5 separate regions of the Homo sapiens genome follow, and regions 2, 3, 4 and 5 are each linked to region 1. Evidence: fine-mapped expression QTL. A gene starts in region 1. Each other region holds a variant in brackets. All regions are shown on one strand. Distances are from middle to middle. Region 1 holds the start of ARL6IP5 (ARF like GTPase 6 interacting protein 5). Region 2 overlaps ARL6IP5 (ARF like GTPase 6 interacting protein 5). Region 3 overlaps FRMD4B (FERM domain containing 4B). Region 4 overlaps TAFA4 (TAFA chemokine like family member 4). Region 5 holds the start of EOGT (EGF domain specific O-linked N-acetylglucosamine transferase).

Region 1 (5,104 bases):
GACACACAGAGCACTCAATAAATATTTATATTATTAAATGATAAAGAAAGAAAAGAGAACAACTGGTGGAAAAAACTACTGACTGTGCTTATAGTTGCATAGAAAACAGTTAGGGGTTATATACCAAACTTTTACTGAAGTATGAAGGAAATTTCACATTTTATCCACATAATTTTCAAATCAACCTTTACTACTAGCCTGTATCTTTTGTAAGTTTTTAAAAATAAGGATAAGTTTTAAAAACTTCATGGCTACTTTTCACTTTTTCACTTCAAAATTTTCATTGACAACCAACAACTCTTATTTGAAAGGAAAATGAGGAGGGCCAACACCCCTAAACTACCTGAGTTAGTGGCCTAAGGCACAATACTGACGGAGCTATATTTAGTCAAAGGGCTGGCCCCTGGCCTTCACAGTGAAAAATGGATTCTATCAAAAGCAGCAAGGCTGTCTGAGCTTGTGCCTGGTCTGGGCAGCACACATGTCTGAAGAAAATAGACTTTTTTTTTTTTTTAATTATTGGTCTGTGTCAAACTTTGCCCCACATCTAAGTTACCTCAAGAAAATACCTCCATAACTAGATCACCAGATAAGATGCCCTCCTGCTTCTTTGCAAAGAGAAAGAAAAAAACAAAAATTGATGCAAACCTATTTACTACTTATTTTGTTTTAAAGACTTTTTTGGCCAGGCACAGTAGCCCCCGCCTGCAATCTCAGTGCTTTGGGAGCCAAGGTGGAAGGATGGCTTGAGCCCAGAAGTCAAGACCAGCCTGGGCAACATAGTGAGACCCCATCTCTAAAAAAAATTAGCCAGGCTTTGTGGCACGCACCTGGGGTCCCAGTCACTTGGGAGACTGAGGTAGGTGGATTGCTTGAGCCCAGGAGGTTGAGGCTGTAGTGAGCTGTGATCACAATACTGCACTCCAGCCTGGGCAACAGAACAAGACCTTGTCTCAAAAGTAAATAAATAATAAAAATTTTTAAAAAGAAATTTTTGGCCAGGCACAGAGGCTCACGCCTGTAATCCCAGCACTTTGGGAGGCTGAGGCGGGCAGATCACCTGGCCAACATGGTGAAACCTTGTCTCTACTAAAAATACAAAAATTAGCTAGGCATGGTGGTACGTGCCTGTAATCCCAGCTACTCTGGAGGCTGAGGCACGAGAATTACTTGAATCCGGGAGGCAAAGGTTGTAGTGAGACGAGATCACGCCACTGCACTCCAGCCTGGGCGACAGAACGAGGCTCAGTCTCAAAAAAAAAAAAAAAAAAGAAATTTTTTAGTGTTCCAGGAAAGCAGCCTGAAGCACAGAGCTGAGGGAAGGTTCAGAAGGCAGCTGCCTCAGGCCTTGGGCCTGCCCCACCCTGCCCTGACTAACTTGTACCTTGGCTGCCACACTAGTTCCGAGTCCACTCAGAGCCTGTGCCCTCTATACACCAAGCCATTCCCAGAATGCAATTCCTTAAGAATTCCTTAAGCAATGCAGAAGAAGGATCTGTGCGATTGTGTATAGAGTCCCACATGTGGGCTTCCACCTCTGCATGGGGGTGATTGCTGTGAACCATACTCGGAAACTGTGAAGTCTCCCCCTCTCCTCTGTGCTGTGTGTTTGCTCCTTTAGCTTCTCAACAACTGCCAGGAGCCCCTGGGCCAGAATTCAAGTCTGATTCATCTTGGTGTGCTTGGAGCTTGGCATGGGGCCAGGCACAGAGAGGTGGCTCAATGTATAAGCCAATTAACTGCGAGCCAACTGAAGAAGCCACCCTGTTCACCCTTTCCCACACCCTTCAAGTGCAAATTTCTCCCTTTTCTCCCAAGCCAGCTTGCTGCTTCTTCCCTCTACGTCTGCCCTGAAATAGAAATGTCAGACATTTAAGTGCAAGTGAGTCCTTTATAAAGTCTGAGGGTGGCTTTTTCTTTAAAGATGTGTAGGAGATAATCAGCAAGATTGAGAATATCACCACCCATCCTGCATAAGCGAGAGAAGCATTTCTTAAAGGGTGAACTAGAAGGAAAGGTGGTTTCTAGGAAAGCAGGTGTACATGCAGTCTCAACACAGGATACTTTGTTAAGTATCAGGTATTGAAAAGGCCTTCTGATACATTGAAACCTCAGGCTAGGAAGCGAAGACAGAGAAAGTGACCACGCCTGGCCACTGCTGGAAGAAAATGCCAGAAGGCCATCTTCCCACAGTCATGGCAGCCTTTACCCCACAATGGGAGATGCGCCACCAGGAGACACCCCCCCTTTTGATCCCAAGCTCAGCTTTACTGTACAGTGTGGCAGGCATTAGGCAGAGAAAGCAGCAAAGTGCGTCGCCACTTGGTTGCCCTTTTTACACTAGCCCGGGTCCACACCCTGCCGCCCCAGCCAGCTCCAGGGTAGGGTTACACCACTTTCCTTTTTCTTCTTATTTTTAAAAGACGAGGGCGCTACAAATATCTTTCCAGCAAGAGCCCGATCCTGGCACGCGGGCGGGGGCAGGGGGGTGGGGGAACTCTCATTTTTCTTCCCTGCGGCTGGCAAATTTTCCCCGTCCTCTTTCCCCTAGGGCCCCCCTCAAGTCTCAGCCCTTGGTGCAGAAAATGGGGCCCCAGGTTACTGCGGCCTCGCCCTGCAAACAAGTTTCCACTGGCTTGGCCGCTTGCAGAATTGCCAGGGCAGGCGCTGAGCGTGGTCAGAGAGCGTCTCTACATCCCGGGATCTTGCACCCCGAGGCCCCTCCGTGCTCGCCCCGGATCGGTGTCCCGGGTAGGGGGACCCCACTTACCCCACAATGGAAATCATCATGGCAGCCACCACCAGGTAGTTGGTCTGGTAATAGAGCAGGTTGCTCACTACGCGGTTGTTCCATTTGGAAATGTCCCTGAAGTCCGGCCGGGCAAAGCGATCGGAACCCGGGAAGAAATCGTCCCAGGCGCGGAGTGGGGCGATATTAACGTCCATGTTCTCAGCTTTGCGTTCTTCGCCTCCAGAATCTGGCGGCGGCGGCGGCGGCAACCGATCAGCTGAGCTGAGTTGGAGAGTTGACAGCGGCTCCGTCTCGGTCGGCTTTGCGGTTGGCAGACAGCAGAGCAAAGGAAATTGGGAGTGGGCGGGCGTGTTTGCTCCTCTTTACTTCTTCATTGGCTCTTGGTTGGGTACAGGAAAACAGGAACCTCCAGACAGAACAAGGGACTGAGTGCAGAATAGAGACGAAATGACAGAAAGCAACTAGCGGAAATCCCCTGTCTGAAGGGAGGTGGCAATGCCTTCTCTAGCAGCAGAGAAGCTGCCTCCTTCGAAATACCTTTTTTGAAGGTTTACCTAGGAGTGTGTTCTCTGACTTAGAGAAAAATTTTGGCAGCTGTGCAGATGCCAATCTAAGTGAAATGAAATGGAAGGCGACTACAGTGTTAATGGAGAATGAGCTGCTTTTGAAAACTAAGTCTTACTAACCTCTACACATCTGAATGCAATTCCCATGTTTTCTCTGTTTCACCATGAGTCACTATGTGTGAAATCAGATTGGCAAAACGGGAAAGAAGGTCATGTAGAACAGAAGGGCTGGTCTGTTTTTTTCACTTCTCTTCTTTGTTCTCCACCTCTGTTCTCTCTAGGCTAAATTGTTGGACTGCTATGCCATTCTGATAAAGTAGGCACTCTGGCCACTTCAGTCCTGAGCTGGGCATGTTGCTTACATTTTAAAGCAAACAGTTGTCTGCAGTGAACTAGTTGTTCTGCATCCAGCATTTTCTGGGCAGAAATATGCATTCCACTTCAAAAGTTTTCTTAGTTTTATTGCAATATTTGGTGACAGCTTTCACTGAGGGACCACAATATATTCATAGATAACGTGATGTTTTGTATCCCAGCCCAAAGACCTGGCAAAAGAAGTATTCGTTGTCAATTCTCTTCTAAGCTTCCAAGGGTCATCTTTTTTCAGTTAAGGGGCTGATTGGTACAATGCATGAGAAAAAAAGTAGTTTGTTTAATTGTATAATGTAATAGGTAGAATTCTAAGGTGAAGATTTCTAAGATAACAGAGTCTCTAAGCCCCTAAGTGGCTTAGACAAGGTGAATTCACTCTACTCAGATCACCAATTTTTGAAAACTTGGAAAGTAATGAAATATACTAATGCAAAGTCTAGAAAACATAATTTAATTTTCCTTATTAATTCAGAAGACAGTTAAGGAGCTTACAGCGACTCTAAGAAATTACTACTACTACTGTTGTTTAGGAAAATTTGGTGATTGCATGGAATTAGTGCTAAGATATATCTTATGTGCTGCTTTTTGAATAAAGTTTAAAATGTGAAAATATTCCTGAGTGCTCATGTTTTCTTGATTCTGGAAAAATGGGATGGTGTGAAGTCAGAGAAAGCAAAATTAGAGTCGCAGCTCCTTCCTCTCTGGCAGGTGACTTTGGAGAAACTACTTAATCTCTCCCAGCCTCGGTGTCTTCATGTGTAAAGTGGGGATAATGGAACATCTGCCATATAGACGAGGCTAAGTGAAGGAATGTATAGGAAATGCTTAGTGTATAATAAAGGTTCACAGTTATATGTTACTATTATTGTTATTAGCAATAGGATAGCCCACGATTCTTGTTTGCTATTAATAGTGCTTTAATCTGATTTGTTTTCTATGCTTTCATTATAAACATCTACTAACTTTTCTCTACCTTGCTCCAACTTTATTGTTGTGGATGTATCTGGGTAGGGGGAAAAGGTTGAGAATATTCAGTACAATGCCAGCAAGTATTTCGAGTTCTTTTGAGGCTCTGTGAAAGCACTGTGGGTTTTTTTTCTTTTCTTTTCTTTTTTTTTTTAAAGAGGAGAAAAATGTAATCCTGCTCTGCCTTCAAAACTTCTGCAATCCAGTGGAAACACTAGTTAAATATGAGACAGTAAGAGGAGTGCTAAATAGAGATGCACTGAGCCTCAGTGCTCAGTTACAGGAAGTCAGAGGGTGTGGAGGAATTCCCCAGGGCTTCAGAATGTCAAGAGGCAGCACTGTGGGCAAGCTGAGTAAATCATCTTGGTCAAGATGAGAGTGGGAACTCCAGTGGGGCCCCACACTGTTGGTGAGATTTATGAGTATTAGAAGCTGTAACTAAGAACTT
Region 2 (5,104 bases), 21 kb before region 1:
TAAAGGGAACAAATAATGTTTCATCCTATGGAAATGTGAAGGATGAATTGAGCTCCTGGCCCTTCTGATGCTTTGAAATGGAAGGATTGTTCCTTAGAGCTTCTCTGCAGAATCAGTGGAGATTTTCAGTTTCCCACCCTGCCTGGCTTTCTCTCTTGGTGACTCCCTTGGTGTTTTGGAGTATTCTTTCTATAGGGGTACCTGTGAGGGGCAGAACACGTAAGCCACAGAACATGGTGAAAACTAAGTGTCACTAGGAAAAGTAATGGGAAAGTAAACCCTGCATATATGAAAACTTCCTGGCAGCAAGTTTTCATATATAGAGGGACAATGGGAGACAGCATGCTGTTTTTATAGAAAAGAAGTTTTACATAATATAGTTATTGACAAGCTTTTGGTTTTGGCTAAATACACACACACACACACACGCTCATATGTGTTTACTCTGTAAGTCTAATTTGATTTTATCACTCTCAAACATATTTTAAAGGAAACTTGCTTACAGGAAGGATTAAACTTGAACTACTTATCCTATTCTTTAAGGCACTCCATTGCCTGGCCCCAATTTACTAATCCTGTCTTATTTCCCACAAATCCTTTATACTCTACTCGATGAAACATCCTTGTGCACACCCTTGTGCCTTTGCTCGCATTAATCCTTCCAAGAGACTTCCCTCCTGTTCTCCATTAATGAACGTCCTACCCAGTCTTCAACTCCCGGGTCAGATCCTGTGTCCTCCATAAAAAATTTTCCAGACAACTCCAATCTGTCCTTCTTCCAAGTTCCTAGAGGCCTTAATTATTCATTCTAGCCACTAGGTGCATAGAATTTGAGATTTTTGTAATAATAGAAGTAGTGTGAACCCTAGAAATTAGAAAATCAAGCTTTGGGCCAGGTGCGGTGGCTCATGCCTGTAATCCCAGCACTATGGGAGGCCAGGGAGGGAGGATCTCCAGAGGTCAGGAGTTCGAGACCAGCCTGGCCAACATGGTGAAACCCCGTCTCTATTAAAAATACAAAAATTAGCTGGGCATGATGGCAGGCACCTGTAATCCCAGCTACTCGGGAGGCTGAGGCAGGAGAATTGCTTGAACTGGGGAGGCAGAGGTTGCAGTGAGACAAGATCACGTCACTGTACTCCAGCCTGGGTGACAGAGTGATACTCCATCTCAAAAAAAAAAAAAAAAAAAAAAAAAAAAAAAAAAAAAAAAACCTTTGGTGCCTTTTCTCTCTTCTTTACCTGAGTAAATAATTGGCACCTGCCTTCTTTCTCCTTTTATGTTATCATAAGTGGCATGTATCAAACCAAACAGGCTAGGGGAGAATAGGTCTAATTGTGACAGACTTAAAAACAACACATTATTTGGAAAGACAAGCCATGGGAAAGAAATATGGCGTTTCTATTTTTTTAAGATAATTTAGTATGTACAAAAGTATCCAAATTTAAATATAGTTTTCAATGGCTGATAGTTTTGTTTTCTCACCCTTCAATATTTCTAGAAAACATCCTTGCATACAAAGCAGGATAGCTAAGAAAGGGCTGTAACAAACAAAACTTCAAGTGTCTAGCACATACTACATCTAAGAGGCTAAACTCTGATAGGAAAAGCACTTTAAACATAATTAAAAGCTTAATGTAAATTAGTAGTTGAAATTCTAGGCCGGTGCGGTGGCTCATGCCTGTAATCCCAGCACTGTAGGCGGCCGAGGTGGGTGAATCACATGAGGTCAGGAGTTCAAGACCAGCCTGACCAACATGGTGAAACCCCATTTCTACTAAAAAAAAAAAAAAAAAAAAAAAAAAATACAAAATTAGCCAGGCATGGTAGCTCATGCCTGTAATCCCAGCTACTTGGGAGGCAGGAGAATCACCTGAACATGGGAGGTGGAGGTTGCAGTGAGCTGAGATTGCACCATTGCACTCCAGCCTGGGCAACAAGAGCGAAACCTCATCTCAAAAAAAAAAAAAAAATTCTAGAAAGCCCCTATGCATTTGTTTGTATAGCCACAGTATTATTAAAGTCAGGAATTTCAAAATGCACAGTAAGAGGGTTTTTATCTTAGATATACAAGAAGAAAAGATGATCCAATTTCATAGCTTATGGCCTCAATACACAGGTTTTGCCAAAAGAGGTGAAGCAGTTCACATTATGCTTTTTCTACCACCCAACCCTAAAGATCTTAGTTGCAGATTTTAGCTTGTTTTTAAATGTAATCATAATTTACAACATTTATATGTTACATTTTTCTGTTATTACCCTTCCAGAATTGACTACTGGCCATTAGTAATTACAGGTATCTTTTTTTTTATTAGTTTCTCCAAATTTATTGGATTTTATCGGCAGAATTCACCTTGTAGAAAATGGAATGGGCTAACATGTATATAAAACTGGGCTAACATGTATATAAAACTCGTGCCAGGTTTAAAAATAGGATCCCACTGGAATTGTTTTATTCTGGCTGCAAGTTAATAAAGTATTCAAGCTTTACTAAACAGTATTTGAAACAGCTGAAGTGTTTGCTTCACTGTTTATAGGGTCGTC[G/A]CCAAGTTTCTCAGGTATTTAAGACAGATGTGCATTAAATAAAGTCTCACCAAAAAAACCTTTAATCAATTTTATTCTTCATATGTGGGTAAGGGTACAGATTCTAGACCATGTCTGTGAAGTCATGGTGATATCACTGTGCTAAAGATCATGGCTGTAGGTTGGCTGAGAATTTAAAATGCAAGAAAAATCAGAAGCAGCACATCATTGCTTCTTATTCTAGGACATACAGAGAGTTTCTTCAGTAAGTACCACTCCAGTTGTCTTCACAATTTAATGCTACAGAAACCTAAATGTTTCTACTTCAGCTACGAAATCATTCAATTGGCAGGCAAAACATTTTTTATTACCTATTTATAAAAACATGAGAAAGGGAGGAAAAATAATAGAATGTATAAACTCATGCTATCATAATTCTAATGTCTAGCTATAAAGGCATATGGTTGTAACAATTGCTATCTAAAATTTTTTATTAGCTGCAGTAGCTGCATTCCATTTTCATTACCATTTTTTAAAGTCTTTTTGCTTGGTCATCTAAAGACGTTTTTCAAATTTCAAAAGATCAGCTATTATTGTCCTCCTTGTGCCCCTAAGGAATTAATAAAATGCACATTCATTTCCTTCTTTCTAAATGTTCCAGTTAAAAACGAAACAATGCAAAAATGGCAAACATTTTCTTGGACCATTTTTTTCACTGTAACAACAAAAAATGTGCAAGGTAAATAGAACTCAAGTTTTGTTTTATTTTTTGTCTGTTTGTATTTTAATAAGTCCGTCCAGAATAATACAGGTTACATAGCTGTAACCATCTTAAGGAAAATGACATTAAGTTTGCAACAAATACTTGCTGGTGAAAACACATTACTAGCATTTCAAAAATTTACAAAAATGTAACAAAATATCCTAAACAGCTATCTTTATATTTGTAAAGGAAGTATGAACAACTGGCTTAACCAGTTTCCACTGCACATCAAACAGGTGGCAAAGTGATAGAGATCATCTTTGATTTTTAAGAGAATAATAAAAACTAATTTATATCCCACACATTACAATTCTAGGGGATTAGGAACAGGCTAACACATGATGTCATCTACTTTAACAGCCTTTTCATTTACTCGTATTGTCTTGATACTTTACAATGATTTTTTTTTTCCTATAAGATAATCGTATTGTTGCTGTAAAAGCCGTAATTCTTTTATTTTTTTTAATTCCCTTAAAGAAATCGTGTGATCCATTTCCCATTAGATTTCATAAACACACGTGAAACTTCAGACACAATAGGAGGGTGGTGGTTTTCTTTCGGTTTCTGAGGTCTTCTCTCTGAAACATCAGAGCTGATAATAGTTCGGCCTATACATGCATGCTGCCATAGATAATTGGGTGGTACGTGCACCTCCTGTTTCAAAAACGCAAGCAGAACATAGGTCTGGACAAGGGCAAGCTGCAACTCAATTTCTGCTGCAACCCTAGCTCAGGTAAGTTATGTTTATTCCTTCACTTTGCTGATATAGTCAGTGAGTCTGTTGATGCCTTCTTCCTGCTGTTCTAGGGCATCCAGGACAATGCCCATCGGTGTCCTCTTCAAACCTATTCCTTCCATTTTATTCTCCAGTTTGTTCTTGAGGTTCCGAAGTCTCAACGATGCATGGATAAACATCACTGCAGAGAAGGGACACCTGGTTAACACCAAAGCAACAATTCTCTTTTGCCATATCAATATTACACTCCCTCTCTTCACACTATTAGTAAACTGCCTTAGTTAGCCACAGTCCAGTCTGCTTCTCGAATTGATGCAAGCTTTCAAATGGCTCCTTGGACTTTATGTAAAGCTCTCCATCAAGTCATACATAGTTTTTTTTCTGCATTAAAGGAAAATGCTGTATTCAACAGGAAGGACCATTATCTGGAAGCCACACCCTTTCCTTCACACACTGATATCATCACCTTGCAGATGCTACTTAAATGTCCTGAAATTCAGAGTGAATCAACGGGATTCCATCCTACTTAAAAATCAACTTACCCGAGGCTTTCCAGAAAAGAACTCTTGCTCGATTCGGGATTATCTGTATCTTGTTCCCTGCAGGAGCACGTGAGTAAAGTCCACTTTTAAAGTGCCTCCCGGAGGCTTTACCCAAAGTGTTGGGTATAGAATTCTAGATGTAAAAATCTAAGGGCTTTACAGAGTTTCTATAGCCTACCGTTCCCCAAACTTGCTTGATTATTTTACCACAGATTCCCTATCCCCTTTCCTGGACCTCCTCCACCTGAGCCTTAAAGAGACAGGCCTGGGAATCTGTATTTTAAACAGGTAACCCTCTCTCCATATGATCTATACCAGTGGTTTTACAACTTCCATGTACATTCAAATCACCTGGAGAGCCTGTTAAATAGGCAAATTCCTGGTCTCCATCACCCCAAATTCAGACTGTTACAACTGAGGGAAGGCTCCAGAATTCATTATTTTAATAATCACTCCAGATGATTCTGATGTAGGTGGATCTTGGACCCTTATTTTGAAAAACCCTGATGTGGATTCATCTGGAGGATCTCAACCTAGACC
Region 3 (5,104 bases), 93 kb before region 1:
TTTACGTTGACAGGCACATCTCTTAAATGTGTTCACGTCATTGAGGCTTGATATTTTAAAAGAATAAACCCTCAGGTAAGCAGAAAACATTAGAATTATACATCCCTCCTGGTTCACCACCAAGATTGATCATCTAAGGACTGCTTTGAATGCAAGCCTGGGATTATGCAGGTACTTAGGCAAGTGCCTGCATAAGGCTCGTAAGAATCCTTATAGGAGCTGGCATTGATTAAGCACTGTTCTAAGTAATTTGCTTTTTTTTTTTTTTTTTTTTTTTTGTAGAAACAAGGAGGCTTAGGTTGGGTCTTGCTATGTTGCCCAGGCTGGTCTCAAACTCCTGGCCTCAAGCAACCCTCCTGCCTTGGCCTCCCAAAGTGTTGGGATTACATGTGAGAGCCGCAGTGCCTGGCCATGCATATTGTAATTCAGTATTCATATATACCTATGTTGTGGTTGACTTAAGGGATTTTCAAAGATAATTTTGATTAGAGATGTTTCCTTTATACTCTTGATGTTGACTTTGGCCCCTAACTCTGCTAACATTTGTGGAGGACTTCCTGCCTACTCCCAGTTGTACTAGGTACTTTAAGTAGAGAAATAGAAGATAGGGGAGGCTCTGTGTATGGTTTTATTTATTCAGCAAATGAGCAGCCACATTCAAGATGTGGAGGACCCATTGTTGAACTAGTTCCTGGCCACGATGAGCTCAGAGTCAGCAGCCAGAGGAATGTTTAAAAATTAAGCAATTTTAAAACGCTAAGAAATGAATGAATTCTCAAACTGCCAGAAAACCTGTAGGTCATGAGTCTCACCTTCTCCCTTATTAACATGACACCTTAGTGAGACATAGTATAAGGATTCCTGAGTCATTGTATAATAGTCAAGTGAAAACTACACCTTTAAAAGTTTCATGTACTTGTTGATGAGGCGTTTCCATGGAGATTTCTATTTGGGTTCAAGTTCTCTCCTATTTGTGCAGGACTTTGGACTTCCACTAGGGCTGTCCCATCTATTACCACATCTAACATATGAAAGGGCTTCGGTAATTATTTCTTATTTATGGCTCTGACCTAGAAAACACCTTTCTTCCTCTTAAAGTTCAAGATGTGAGAAACTTTCACAGGTCAAACCTGGGCAGAACAGACAGAGTACTACAAGGGAAAGACCAAACAAGGAGGGCTGAGATGCATGTGGATGGTCACTACGGCACAGGGCTGGGGTGGTGCCTGGGGGAAGCAGGTGTTAACTGAGGAAACTCAACATTCCTGGCTGCTAGCTTAGTAAAGGTGAAATGGAGGTAAAGCTTCCTGTTTCAGACCTGGTGTGAGCCTTGCTGACACCAGCAAGATGTGGCCCCACAGACCAAAAGGCATCACTCTTTAAAGAACTACAGGGGTGGAATCAGTACTCCCAGAATTCCCTGCTGGAATTCCCCTCATTTCTGTCTCCACTTTAAAACTGCAGAAATGTATTACAACAGGCAGGCGTCATTCTCATGGAGTGATAAATTTCCAGTTATTTGCCAGATTAGTCCTGGCATTGTAGTCCCTTCCAGCCACCTGAAGGATCTCTCGGTGACTCAGTTTTAGTAATGACAACTACCATTTGTTGGCAGCTTACTAGATGCCATGCACATTCAGAACATTACATGCACTCTCCTATTTAATGTATGCAACAGTTCTATATAGTGATTGCTATTGTTATGCTTATTGTTATCATCCTAATTTTGCAGCTTAGGCAACTCTGGCTACAGAGTTTAAATAACCCAAGTTCCAAAGCTACTAAGTGGTGGGATGGGGATTCTGGGGATTCTGTCCTAGCTCAGCTCCTTTTTTTTTTTTTTTTCTTTTTTAAAGAGACAGTCTCAGTCTGTCACCCACATTGGAGTGCAGTGATACTATTATACCTCACTCAGTCTCAAACTCCTTGGCTCAACGCGATCCTCCCTCCTCAGCCTCCCAAGTAGCTAGGACTACAAGTACACACCACCATGCCTGGCTAATTTTATTTTTTTGTAGAGACTGGGCTCTGTTTCCCAGGCTGGCCTCTAAGCCCTAGCTGCAAGTGATCTTCCCACCTCAGCCTCCCAAAGTGCTGGGATTACAACCATGAGCCATCACACCCAGCCCCACAGCTCTAACATCTTAACCACCAAGGCTTAGAGCCTCTGATTTCAGTTTGGAAATGGCTTGGAAGCTCAAACTCA[G/AG]AGTGTTACATCTGTTAGTCAACACCTCATGACATCCAGGGCCACAGATGAGTTTTGAAATGCGTTTGTCCCATAGTGATCACAGGCACTTTGTGTGTATGAGAGAGAAGAGGAGTAGGTCTGAAGCCAGAAACAGGAAATGGAAAAAGGGCAGTGCTGGTTTTTGAGTCTTGAACGAGTATCATGGCGTGTGGTTATCTTGTCCATCCTAGGCGTGGAGCAGAACTGGTTTTATAGAGAGGACAACAAACGCCCAGTGATGAGGCATTTGTTGGGCTTCGCTCCCAAATTATGTCCTTGTCTTGTTCCAGTTCAGTTCCTCTGTAGAACTAAATCCCTTCTTCCTGAATTCCTTCCTGTGCTACTTACCACCTCGCCTCTTCCCCCAATCCACACCCCAACACATACACACTTTTTTTTAAGACAAAAAATAGCCTTGATCTTGCTAGCGGCCAGTGTTGTCTTTGGCTGAGGAATAGTCAAGTCTCAATAAGTCAACTTATGGAACACATTTCCTCCAAGGCCTCTGACAAACCCAGACTCATCACCTTACCTTTATAACACCATAGCGTGAATGGGAAGATTCTCGCAATATATGAGAATTGTTTTCTTGCTTGTCTTTTCAGTTATTTTAAAAATTATTTATGTGTTATTATTATTTTCTTTCTTGGGATAGGATCTCACTTGGTGGCCCAGGCTGTAGTGCAGTGGTGCAAACATGGCTCACTGTAGCCTTGACTTCCAAGGCTTGAGTGATCCTCCCACCTCAGCTTCCCAAGTTGCTGGGACTACAGGTGTGCACCACCATGCCAGGCTAATTTTTGTATTTTTTGCAGAGATGGGGTTTTGCCATGTTGCTGAGGCTAGCCTTGAACTCCTGGGCTCAAGCGTTACTCCCACCTTGACTTCCCAAAGTGTTGGGATTACAGGCTTGTGCCACTGAGCTGACCTGAAATTATTTTTATTTATTTATTTATTTTGAGACAGAGCCTCACTCTGTCACCAAGGCTGGAGTGCAGTGGTGTGATGTTGGTTCACTGCAACTTAAACTTCATGGGCTCAAGTATTTCTCCTGTCTCAGCCTCCTGAGTGGCTGGGATTATAGGCATGCGCCACCATGCCCAGCTAATTTTTGTATTTTTTGGTAGAGACAGGGTTTCACCATGTTGGCCAGGCTGGTCTTGAACTCTTAGCTTCAAGTGGTCCTCCCGCCTCGGCTTCCCAAAGTGCTTGGATTACAGGCATGAGCCACCACACCTGGCCCCAACCTAGATTATTTTTTGAATTGACAAATTTATCTTTCAATTAATCTTATTCTCAATAATAATATTAATAGTTATTTACTGAGTACTTTGTATCAAGTACAGTGCTAAAGATTTTCATAATTACCTTATTTAATCCTGGCATCATACCTATACAGAATATATTAATATTATTATCCCTACTCTATAGATGAGGAAACTGAGGCTTAAAGAGGATAAACTACTTGCCTAAGGTCACATAGCCAGGAAGTCACTAAATTGGAATAGGAACTCTGTTATTTCAAACCCTCTTAAATTTCTCCTCTGACAAAGCTGATTGCAATGTACCTCTGAATGACCTTAACAATTTTTCACTTTTAATATTTCCATTAATTTTATCTTTTTCCATTTTTATTTCCAGTGTCTTCTACAAATGCTTCTGGGAACTGGAGGACCCAGTTAACCATAGGGCTGTCGGATTACGAGACTCCAGCACATTCTTCTTACACCAGCTGCTATGGCAATGTCTATAATCCTTTACCCTCTCCAAGCAGGTGAGGAAGCAATGCTCGAAAATCCTAGGAGCCTGTTCCAGTTCAAAAGAATTCAGGGATCCTAATTTACAAACGTCAGATAATCTAGTTCAGGGGTTGGCAAACTCTAGCCTGTGGGCCAACTCCAGCTGCCATCTGTTTTGGTAAATAAAGTTTCATTGGAGAATAGCCACCCTCATTCACTTACATGTTCTCTATGGCTGTTTTTGCACTATGAGGGCAGAGCTGAGTAGTTGCACCAAAGCCAAAAATATCTGGCCACCATCAGCCAAAAAGTATCTGGCCTTTAAGAAAAAGTTTGCTAACCCCTAATCTAACTCATTCAGATTTGACCCTGGTCTTCAGTATTACATTGAATTCTTGTATATTTCCTCTAATGTTTACAAAGAACTACTTGCACAGACACCAAAGCCAAAAATATCTGGCCTTTAAGAAAAAGTTTGCTGCCGGGCACGGTGGCTCATGCCTATAATGCCAGCACTTTGGGAGGCCGAGGCGGGCGGATCATGAGGTCAGGAGATCGAGACCATCCTGGCTAACACGGTGAAACCCCATCTCTACTAAAAATACAAAAAATTAGTTGGGCATGGTGGCGGGCGCTTGTAGTCCCAGCTACTCGGGAGGCTGAAGCAGGAGAATGGCGTGAACCCCAGAGGCAGAGCTTGCAGTGAGCCCAGATCGCGCCACTGCACTCCAGCCTGGGCGACAGAGCGAGACTCCATCTCCGTCTCAAAAAAAAAAAAAAAAAAAAAAAGAGAAGAAAAGAAAAAGTTTGCTAACCCCTCATCTAACGCATTCTGTTCTTTAGTCTGTACATTGAATTCTGAGTCTGAAGCTTTTATTTTTTAAATTATGGTACTTGAAATCCTATTAGTGATATGTCCATTTAAGTCTCTTTTGAAACCTTGCAGGAAAAATCTCTCTACTCCAGGAAAGGCTGTTCATACCAAGGTTCCTTAGACAGTTGGTAGGCTGGATTTCAAACATTTGCTGCGTTTTTTATCTGATCCTATGTTTGTTATGAAGCAACAGACACAGCCAGCTGTCCTGTTTGTCTGTAAAAGTAGTTCTTTGTAAACATTAGAGGAAATGTACAAGAGCAA
Region 4 (5,104 bases), 210 kb after region 1:
GACACTGCGCCCGGCCCGAGACAAAAGATTTTATTACTCATGGCAGAGGAAGCAGCATGAGCTTCAGTTTTGCTTCAGTTCTTCTTTCATTCTTGGGCAAGTTATGAAACCTCTTCGGGACTCAGCCTCTTTCTATGTAAAATGAGAATAATAAAAATAATAAAAAATAAGTCTCACGGTTATAATAAGGAATCAATTAATACCTGGGAAATGCTGAGAACTGTGTTTGCTTAGTGAGTGCTCAAATGCTAGTTATCCTTATTTAGAGCTGTCTTCTTCTTTTGAATGTTATCTGTTTTGTAGAGGTTCTGTACTGTTCAAATTTATGGAAATTTAGGTTTTCTGTTTTTTTTTCTGTTATAAATGATTATGCAAAATATGCATGTTGTGATTGTGTGTTTTGGTGGTTTATGTTATTTTTAACTTAGGGTAAATTTTTTGAAGAGCAGTTGTTGCATCCAAGTTTGATCCCATGTTTTCTGTCCCCTATGATGGCTGAAATTTATAGGAACCCTGCAAATACTCTTGACTAAATAGCATACGCTGTTTTAGTTCTAATTTTCTACAATAAACCTGGTAATTTCAAAAATACTAACTGAGTGGGGAATATAACATCTACTACAGGAGTCTCTCTGAGGCTTAAATTTGAGATAACATTTGTGAAAATGATAAAATTGTATGTACAGGCGGCTATACTTGTACTTTGCCGGCAGAAATGAATTGTACTTAACACAGATGCGTTTGAAAAATGATTTGCCTGCATTGCCTAAGTTCTGACACTAGGGGGTAGGCAAGGCTTATCATAGCTAAATAGAGCCACATGTAATTTTGCATGTTATAAAGCTGCGCTGAAAAAAGTAAAAGGCAACAGAGGAAATTAATTTCACTAACACATTTTATTTAACCCAATATATTCAAAATATTATCATTTTAACATGTGACCCTAGCCACGTTTCAAGTGCTCAATAGTCACATGTGGTTAGAGCCTACTATGATAAGTCCCATGAACTAATAATGAGTTAGGTCTTAATGTTGCTTTTTTAAAGATTGGAATTATGGGTTATTTTAATTTTCATGGGTCAGTCATAGAGCACATTGTTTTATCTCTCTTTATTTCACTTAATTTCTTTTATGTTTTATTTAGTTATTTAGTTCTCTCTCTCTTTTTTTTTTTTAAAACAAATGACTACTAAATTTAGAAAAAGTACCAGGTAAGTGGGATTCGTAACCTCAAGTAATAAAGAATGGGGAAGAGTTCTGTTTCCTGATGAATAGCTTATGCTGTTATTCTCTGCAAGAGCATATTTTTAGGGAGAGGGAAGTGGCAAAAGTAATTTGACAGTGTGTGTGTGTTTATGCATGTGATATCAACCATTAAGTCTTAAAGTTACCCACTAGCAAACTTATTTTGATCAATAATGAGCACTTACCCACTGGGGTAAGTGAAACCTGATGATACCATTTTAATATGGTTTCTCCTGTACTTTTCTCTATCTTCCTTCTTCCTGTCCCACTTCCAGTGAATGGTTATTTCAGTAAATCTATGGATGTATTGCTATGCAGGCAACTCCACAATAGCATACACTATTTTATGAGCAAGAAAAAGAAAAGACTGTGGAATGGTTTAAAGGTCCTATGTTTTGGTAGCAATGGAAAAAGGCATCCATAAGATAGTGGTTACTTTATTCTCTCCCTGGGGAGCTTTTGCACGAAAAACACAGAGGGCCCACTGCAGCGAGATTCCATCTGAACCTTACAAAGTAGAGTGCAGGCACCTGTATTATTTAACAACCGTACTATTGATTACTCAGACCTGCAGCCAAAGATGAGAACAAATGATTCAGAAGTTAAAAAAAAAAAAAAACTGGAAGTTTGACTCTAGCTCCTATCAAGGTACAGTTTGATGTGGGTGGTGATGTCTCCATTTCAGTCTTGCTATGACATAGTTAGGCTGAGGAGAGTTGTCACCCTGTCAAGGTGACCTCCATTTCCACCTCTTGGGAAGGACTGTGAAAATACTTACTCATTTTGTACCAGCTCAGCTTTTTGAATGCTAAAAGCTTCCATGGTGAGGGATTCCACTAGCCTCCGTTGTACCCCATATTATATTTCTTCAGTGCCATCTTGATGGGCTCAGCTTTTAATAAGAAGGGAAAGGAACACATTATATGCAGTGTTCATATTTGGCTTCTTCTCACCTCCTCAGCTGCAAGTTCAAGTCCCAGTGCCACTGGCAAGTTCAGCTTTGTGAAATGTCTGACAAATGAGCATGCTTTACATCCTTTGTGTGTGTGTGTGTGTGTGTGTGTAAAGAAAGGGTTGTATTACTGACGGGAGTAAAGAATTTCAGTTCCTCAAATGAGCTTGTGAGCCATCCTACTTGGCAGAGTAGGCTTTTTCACCCTTCCCTCTTTGAGTCTTTAGGGCAGAACAGGCAACTGTCTTTGAAGAGTTCCTCGGGTAGTTTGGGAAAAGATTCTCCTTACCCTTGAGAAGAAATTTCCCTTTTTCTTCTTTCAAGCCACGGCCTTAGACTCATCTAAACAAAGCCTACAATTTGGGGTTTAAAAAGCTACAGGTCAATACCTCATCTGTATGCCAGTGCTATACGAGGAAATTGGAATCATTTGTTCCCTATAAGGAAAATAAAATCATTGGTAAAAAGAAACAGCAGGGGTAGAGACGGGGCAGGAAGAAAAATGACGTTTTGTATTTTCCTAGGTGTTGCTTGGATGCTTTAAATATTTTGGTCCATATGGTAGTCTCAGAATAGAACACTGGAAATAATATTTTTGAAGGGACATTTAAAAACCCATTACAAAGGATTGATTGTGAGAAGACTGTGTTTGCAAGAGTTAAAAACAATTTGACTACTAAGGCCAAGTACCATCAATGCTTATATTTTAGGGTATGTCTGAAATCAGATAAGAACTATAACTAAGTCCGACAGGGTTAGAAGGGCCTGAGATTGTTGGGTGTCTCCAACTGGGCTCTGTTTT[TTTC/C]TTAGCTGTTGGGGATTGGGTAATGGGATCCTAGAAGCAGAGAGGGAACAATAGAGAAATTTGTTTCAGGAAAAATATAATATAGGCATGAAATGAAAGAAGTGAATAGCAACAGTGTTGTTAGCAGCAGGCAATTTTTCAGTAGCTCATCACTGACATTGCACAGCTACCTGGGAAAGGGCTGGGAATAAATACCAGCCATCCAAGGGTGTGGGAGATTTCAGCAATCCGAACTTGGTTGTGCATAAAGGAGTCAAGAGGTGTGTCTTCTTCCCCAAAGTCAAACAGTTACAGATTTTGGAAAAGTCTCCTTTGCTCTGGAAAGTCTTATTTGTTGTTTAGAAAGCATTTGCAAGAAATAGTGGGAGGCTTGTCTTTCAAGTGGCACTTTCAAAGGCTGGTTGGATTTGAGCTAGAGAAATGAACATGTGAACATGTTGCTGTTTTCTGCCCTCCCTGCAAGTGTCCTGTGGTCATTTTACAGGCTTTTCAAGTAAGTGTTGCCCCGTGGAGGACAGTGATTTCTAACTATGCATAGTCTATATGTTTGAGCTGTTGCCGGCTAAACATATCCAATAGGAAATAATACCCAAATTGAAAGGGAGAGAGCAGCTATTAATATGAATTACTTGTCTAGTTAGTTGCTTTCAGGATACCATCTAGAAATTGGAAACATTCACAGAATGGCTAGGTCAGCATTTTTCTGGCCCAGGGTGTGTGTGTGTGTGTGTGTGTGTGTGTGTGTGTGTGTGTATGTCTGCGTGTGTCTGTCTGTTGTGTGTGTGTCTGTGTCTGTTTCTATTTGTCTTCTCCTGGAAAACAAGTATGACGTTGTTTGATCTCTCCAGGTGAGAGCAAGGTTGTTAGCCTCTCCTACCTTATGTTGTACTGATCTGGAATTTGTTTTCTAATGAGCCTGATGCATGCCTCATAGGTGTGTGACACATCAGAACCTGGATTGTTTCTATAAGTCACTGAGACCTAAGTTTGAACCCTACTAATTTTAGAATTTGTAATGGAATGTGTGATGAAAGATCAGCCTTGAGATGATACGGCTGATATTTACCCATGCTGTCTATGAAAAGGGATTTGCTAAGCAAATAAATGGTGTAAATATATTTACCAAGGAGCTGTTCACGTTATCTTAAAAAATCGTCAAGTGCTTTGGAAGCATTTATTTAACATGAAGTCAAAATGCTTGTGCCTTCTCTCTGCAAAGTCCTACCTATGTGACCCTGGGCAAAGTTATTTAATCTCTCTGAGCCTCAGTTTCTTCTTCCTGGAAGTGAGTATTACAACATCCCCTACCTAAAAGTATTTTTGTGACATGAAATGAGACAATTTATCTAAAGAGCTTGGTATTATGTCTGGAATTTAATGCATTTTCTTATTTATTATTGCTACATAATAGTTGTGCATATCTTTGGGGTACATGTGATATTTTGATACATATATACAATGTGTAATGATCAAACCAGGACAGTTGCAACATCGATCACCCCAAACATTCACCCTTTCTTTATGTTGGGAATATTGTGATTCCTCTTCTCTAGCTATTTTGAACTAAAACTAAATTATTGTTAACTATAGTTACCGTACCATACTATTGAACACTACCTCATATTTCTTCTCTCTAACTGCATTTTTTTAAACTATTAACCTCTGTTCATCTCTCCCTCCTCCCAACCCTTCCTAGCCCCTGGTAACCACCAATCAACTTTCTACCAGTATGAAATCTACTTTTCTAAGCTCTCACATATGAATGAGAGCATGCAGTATTTATTCTGTGCCTGGCTTATTTCAGTTAACATAATGACCTTCAGTTACATCCGTATTGCTGCAAATGACAGGATTTTATTCTTTTTTATGACTGAATAATATTCCATTATATATATATATGTACCACATTTGCTTTATCCATTCATCCAGTGATGGACACTTACGTTGTTCCCATATCTTGGCTGCTGTAAATATGGCTGCAATAAACATGGGAGTATAGTTATCTCCTTGATATTCTGGTTTCCTTTCTTCTGGATAGATATCCAGCAATGGGATTGCTGGATCATTTGGTCCTTTTAGTTTTAGTTTTTGAAGGACCACTG
Region 5 (5,104 bases), 72 kb after region 1:
TTTAAATGTTAATCTACTTGTAAAATAATAATTAGTAAATATATATGTGTATACACATGTATACACACATATTCCTCTTAGAAAAATGATATTTACATATTACATATCCTTTTCCCACTCAATATTCTGTAGTGTACAGAGATATTTCTCAATTCCTTTTTATGCATGCATAGTTTTACATTGTATGGATAAACCATAGTTTATTCAACCAGCCTTCTATTGGTAGACACTTGAGTTTTATGTCAGCTCAAAGAAAATTTAAATTCTAACATTGGTATTTTGGAGAGAAATTCTATTTGAGAATGGCTGTTACAGTAAGAGAGACTCAATCTCATGTTCAGGTTTATCATATCTGGTTTCCTGTAAGTCTGAATGACCATTCAATATGTAGGTGTTTAAAATAGCACCACATAGCCAGGCGTGGTGGCTCACAACTGTAAACCCAGCACTTTAGGAGGCCGAGGCTGGAAGATCACTTGAGGCCCGGAGTTGGAAACAAGTGCTGGGAACATAGCAAGAACCTGTTTCTACAAAAAAAATAAAATAAAATAGTACCATGCACATGTCATACTGATTTTAACCTTTTTGTATGTGACAAAAATAGGATGGTAGCAAGTAGGCTGAGGAAGCTTTTTTTTTTTTTTTTTATGAGACAGGGTCTCACTGTGGCCCAGGCTAGAGTGCAGTGTCTCAATCATGGCTCACTGCAGCCTCAACCTCACTGGGCTCAAGCGATCATCCTGAGTAGCTGGGACTACTGGCATGAGCCACAGTGCCTGGCTTGAGGAAGCATTTTAAAAAATTACTGTCATTAGTGTGGGATGGTGAAGTATGCAAAGTATAAAATAATAGAGCAGTAATTCTGTTATAGGAAAGGGGTCCCAATCCAGACCCCAAGAGAGGGTTCTTGGATCTCGAGCAAGAAAGAATTCAGGGCAAAGTGTAAGCAAGTTTGTTAAGAAAGTAAAGGAAAAAAAAAAAGAAAGTAAAGGAAGAAAAGAATGGCTACTCCATAGACAAAGCAGCCCTGAGTGCTGCTGGTTGCCCATTTTTATGGTTATTTCTTGATGATATGCTAAACAGGTGGATTATTCATGCCTCCCCTTTTAAGACCATATAGGGTAACTTCCTGACATTGCCATGGCATTCGTAAACTGTCATGGCGCTGATAGGAGTATAGTAGTAAGGACTACCAGAGGTCTCTTTCATGGCCATCTTGGTTTTGGTGGGATTTAGCCGGCTTATTTACTGCAACCTGTTTTATCAACAAGGTCTTTATGACCTGTATCTTGTGCCGACTTCCTATCTCATTCTGCGACTTAGAATGCTTTAACGGCCTGGGAATGCAGCCCAGTAGGTTTCAGCCTCATTTTACTCAGCTCCTATTTAAGATGGAGTTGCTCCGGTTCACATGCCTCTTGACAGTTCCCTTAGAGGCAAAATCTTTTCAATAAAAAGAATAAATTAATACTGTAAAGTGCTTTAAAACAATGTTTGGCACATGTTAAACACCACATGTTCTTGCTGTTATTATTTGAAAAAAATTCCAGGTAAGATTCCTAATTTAGCAGGTCACTAATGGAACTTGTAACAATTCTTAAACAACATTACTTTTAAAAATTACGTAAAAAGCATGTAAGCCTTTGGAAACAAACTTGTTTCCTTATGATCATATTATTTAACTTCTGGTGACTATATTCATTTGAGCATGTTTATTTTGAAGTCATCACCTTCATATAATCAGTTCAACTTTAGTCACTATTTAATGATCAACTCTACTGTGCTGTAGATGGAATACTAGGCCTGGGGGAGCTTAGAGGAAAAGACAGTGGGGGATGGGAGTTCAAATAATTATAAGCAGTAATAAAGTAAATTAACAAAACCATAAAAATTAAACTCCACAGAGTAGCATTTGAACTTGATGAGTTTACGGATAGGTAAAACTATACTGCTTTTAAAATGTGTGTGGACTCCAAAGTATCCTCACCATCACAAAGTGTATTCGGTGAACGATGTTCAGTCCCCAAATTTGGAAGTTAGGGCGGCAACTTCTGCTTGAAATAAGACAAAAGTAAAAATCCACCTCAGTGCAACGCAGAAGACACGAAGAGTCAGGTTTTCTACCCACCCCGTCCTAACATCCTCTGAGCGCTTTAACGCTCTCGCTCAAGGAGGCGCGGGCTGCTGCGATGGAGATGGGCGTCCGGCGCCGGCACGTGCCGTCGGTCTTTCCGGCCCTGGTGAGGGAGCTGGCGGACTCGCGCGAACGTTCGCGGGAGAACGCCAGGAAGGGCAGATGGTTCCTCGACTCTGAGCCCCTCCCTGCTGCGCTCGCCGGGTCGAGGCCGCTCGCCGGGCTGAAGCCGCTCCGAGCGTCGGGCCCCGCGCCCTGGCCCTCCTGGGTGTAGTCCCGGTCCTGCCTCTGCGGGGCCCGAGCCCGCCCACGGCGCCGGCTGGCCAAGGTGTCCCAGCTGCTCCTTGGCGCCCCCTGGCCCAGCTCCCGCGCCCGAGGTTTCCGGTGAGCGGCAGTAGCCGGTTATGACGACTCCCTCCTCTGGAACAGCCGCCGTCTCCTCCGCCTCCTCCTCGGTAGTTCACGGCTGCCCCGGCTCCAGGTGGGACTCCCCCGCAATCTGCGGAGCCTTCCCCCGCTCTCCTTCCCGCCGCCGCAGCGCTCTGCGCTGTTCTTGCCCGGGTGGTAGCCGCTCCCGGCGCGGCTTCCCGGAGGGCTATAGCCTACGCA[C/T]GCACTCCGCCCGCGCCTTCCCATTCCCTGCGGGCCGGGAGGCGGGCGTCGGAAGCCGATCCTGGCCCTCCCCGGCCCCGGGCGCCCGGCCCCTTCCCAGCGCCCGGAGCGCAGGCGGGCCCCGGGCCCTAGCCGCGTTGACCAGGTTTCCAGCCGGGGCGGAGCCGCTCCCCGGGGCCCCTCCCAGGCGCGCTGGGGACCCGGGGCGCCGCGGTGCACGGTGGCGGGCGGCCCCGGGAGATCACCGACCCCGAAGCAATCCCTGGCGGCGCCCGGGGTCCGGAACCCCAGCGCGGCGTCTCAGCCGCGGCGGGGTGCTCGCCACTGACCCCTCAGCCCTTGGCCGGGACTGACGTTCAAGCGGACAGCTGGGCTCTGCCGGGACTGACGTTCAAGGGGCAGCCGAGCACTTCCTGAGCCCTGCCTGGCACCCGCCGAGAGACTTTTTGGCACAAGTAGGGGCCAGCCGTTGAGGTGTCATTCGGGGTCTCACGTGTTGAACTTTCCATTTGCCCACTGCCGTCTTTAAACTTTTCCAAGCTCTCTCTCTCTGCGACATTGCCCCATTTCGCCCGCTGTGTCAACCCCAGGTTTTGCCTCCTATCCATCATCTTTCAGATGTTTCCCTTTTTTCCTTCCTCATTAGGCCTGTGGAAATCGAATCAAGGGTTTCTGGAGTGGAGTGATTCCAGCTGCTTTGAGCTGAAGGAAAAGTAGCCTGGCCAGTAAAGCGTCCGTGTGCTGGAGGAGTGCAGCCACCCATCCCGGCGGGCCTTGCAGGACGACCGACACCAGGAAGGCTTTGTGCCAGGCCCAGCAGCCACCCCCAGCCGCCTTATGCAAGTGGGTACATGCCCTCGCCAGACGCCAGCTTTCTGATCTGCGTCTTTAGATTTTTTCCATCGCCTAAGCGTTACTTCTCCACTGATCGGTGAGTTTAGTGATGGCCAGAGCTCACTGGAGGACAATGGACTTGGATAACCAAAGGTCAGGGCTTGGTCATAACAATGACTTTATTACCGGGAAGGACGAGTCAAAAAATAGGAAGGCCTGGGAACCCTCAGGCTCGCCACTCTAGGTGGGTAGCCCTGTGATTCAGCCAGTGGGATTACTGCTGTGAGAATGGGAAAGTTGTTTGCTTCTGGGAATGTTTGATCCACTAAGTATCCTGTTGGCCAGTTCCAGTGGATGCCTGTAGAAAGTGGGCCACCTCCTCCCGTTCCCCATTGGAATCTGGTCCGAGTTGCTGTGTTGGGGGTGGTGCCTGTGAACTCGAGTATAGCAGTGTGGTATTCATTAAGGAAAAGAAAGCGCACCACCGGCCAGGCCTTCTGGCTGAGAGTTATCACGTTACATTATTTTCTTTCTTAATATTTCCTTTAATTCACAACATCATCTGAATGATCAGGTTTACTTTAGCATCCTTTTAAGGTAATATGTTTCATTTCTGACAGGTTTTAGAGACCTGAAACATCACAGAAGCTTCTGAGTGGTTCTGAAGATTCAAGAGGTATATATTTTTATTACAAGTAGAGTCATTGTTACTATTAATATGTGTTTTTAAATTTTTATAAAACTGCTGTCAACTCATTCTTGGATAAAAGCTCCAAGTGAAAATGTTATTGTAATTCAGATCAGATTTACAGCAGATAACACCATACTCTTGAGGGCCGCCAAAGTGAAAAACCACAATACTTAACTACTCCAAGGGGGGAAAATGGGGGAAAAAGGATTCCTTTTTGGTGTCCCCACTGTTCACTTAGAATTCCATGGCCTTGGAACTTGAGGTTTGATGGAACATAGCAGTCAATTTCCTTTTCTTCTTTCTTTCTTTGTTTTTTTTTTTTTTTGAGACAGAGTCTCCCTCGCATTACCCAGGCTGGAGTGCAGTGGCGAGATCACGACTCACTGCATCCTTGACTTCCCAGGCTAAAGTGATCCTCCCACTTCAGCTGGGACTACAGCTGATTTTTTGTATTCTTAGCAGAGACCGGGTTTCATCACGTTGCCCAAGCTGGTCTCGAACTCAGGGACTCAAGCAATCTGCCAGTCTTGGCCTCCCAAAGTGCTACTATTACAGGCCTGCAGTCTGTTTCTAAAGGTTCCATCTTCACAGCCCATAATCAATGAAGACTGATTTCGAAAGTTGGGTTTTCCGGTATGACCCAGGAAACAGCAGTCCTAGCTGATGAACATCCAGTGTGTATTAAGACTCTGTCATCCAGTGGAAAGAGCACTTAAAAAAAAAAAAAGAACAAAGATCCCACTAAAGTGACCTGAGAATGGCAGGATCATTGTCTGGGATATATAGGAGAAATCTGGTCCAAGAGATTTAACACTTACTGGGTGAATTAGAAATGC

What was found.
Region 2: its variant is fine-mapped to the expression of ARL6IP5 in whole blood (TOPMed, PIP above 0.99).
Region 3: its variant is fine-mapped to the expression of ARL6IP5 in blood mononuclear cells (TOPMed, PIP above 0.99). The same link has a PIP of 0.9 or more in T cells, monocytes and whole blood.
Region 4: its variant is fine-mapped to the expression of ARL6IP5 in minor salivary gland (GTEx, PIP 0.94).
Region 5: its variant is fine-mapped to the expression of ARL6IP5 in sun-exposed skin (GTEx, PIP above 0.99).

The regions. Positions count from the first base shown.
Region 1 is chr3:69,082,890-69,087,993 of GRCh38, reverse strand. ARL6IP5 (ARF like GTPase 6 interacting protein 5) reads right to left here and starts at 3,057. Exons shown (of 3, transcript NM_006407.4): 1 at 2,771-3,057. The coding sequence starts at 2,946. RefSeq lists enhancers at 2,977-3,286, 4,894-5,053.
Region 2 is chr3:69,103,563-69,108,666 of GRCh38, reverse strand. ARL6IP5 (ARF like GTPase 6 interacting protein 5) reads right to left here. Exons shown (of 3, transcript NM_006407.4): 3 at 2,575-4,203. The coding sequence ends at 4,031. It overlaps LMOD3 (leiomodin 3), which reads left to right. Exons shown (of 3, transcript NM_198271.5): 3 at 1-2,602. Among named protein-coding and RNA genes, the nearest start is that of LMOD3, 16 kb to the left of the region's middle. RefSeq lists an enhancer at 3,648-4,847. The variant G/A (reference allele first, on the strand shown) is at 2,545.
Region 3 is chr3:69,175,421-69,180,524 of GRCh38, reverse strand. FRMD4B (FERM domain containing 4B) reads left to right here. Exons shown (of 23, transcript NM_015123.3): 22 at 3,869-4,001. Among named protein-coding and RNA genes, the nearest start is that of LMOD3, 55 kb to the right of the region's middle. The variant G/AG (reference allele first, on the strand shown) is at 2,207.
Region 4 is chr3:68,871,989-68,877,092 of GRCh38, reverse strand. The region is part of intron 3 of TAFA4 (TAFA chemokine like family member 4); the gene reads left to right. Among named protein-coding and RNA genes, the nearest start is that of TAFA4, 58 kb to the left of the region's middle. The variant TTTC/C (reference allele first, on the strand shown) is at 3,000.
Region 5 is chr3:69,011,085-69,016,188 of GRCh38, reverse strand. It overlaps EOGT (EGF domain specific O-linked N-acetylglucosamine transferase), which reads left to right and starts at 2,505. Exons shown (of 18, transcript NM_001278689.2): 1 at 2,505-2,615; 2 at 3,390-3,674; 3 at 4,198-4,253. EOGT-DT (EOGT divergent transcript) reads right to left here and starts at 3,069. Exons shown (of 1, transcript NR_185971.1): 1 at 1-3,069. RefSeq lists silencers at 2,278-2,577, 2,638-3,187. The variant C/T (reference allele first, on the strand shown) is at 2,744.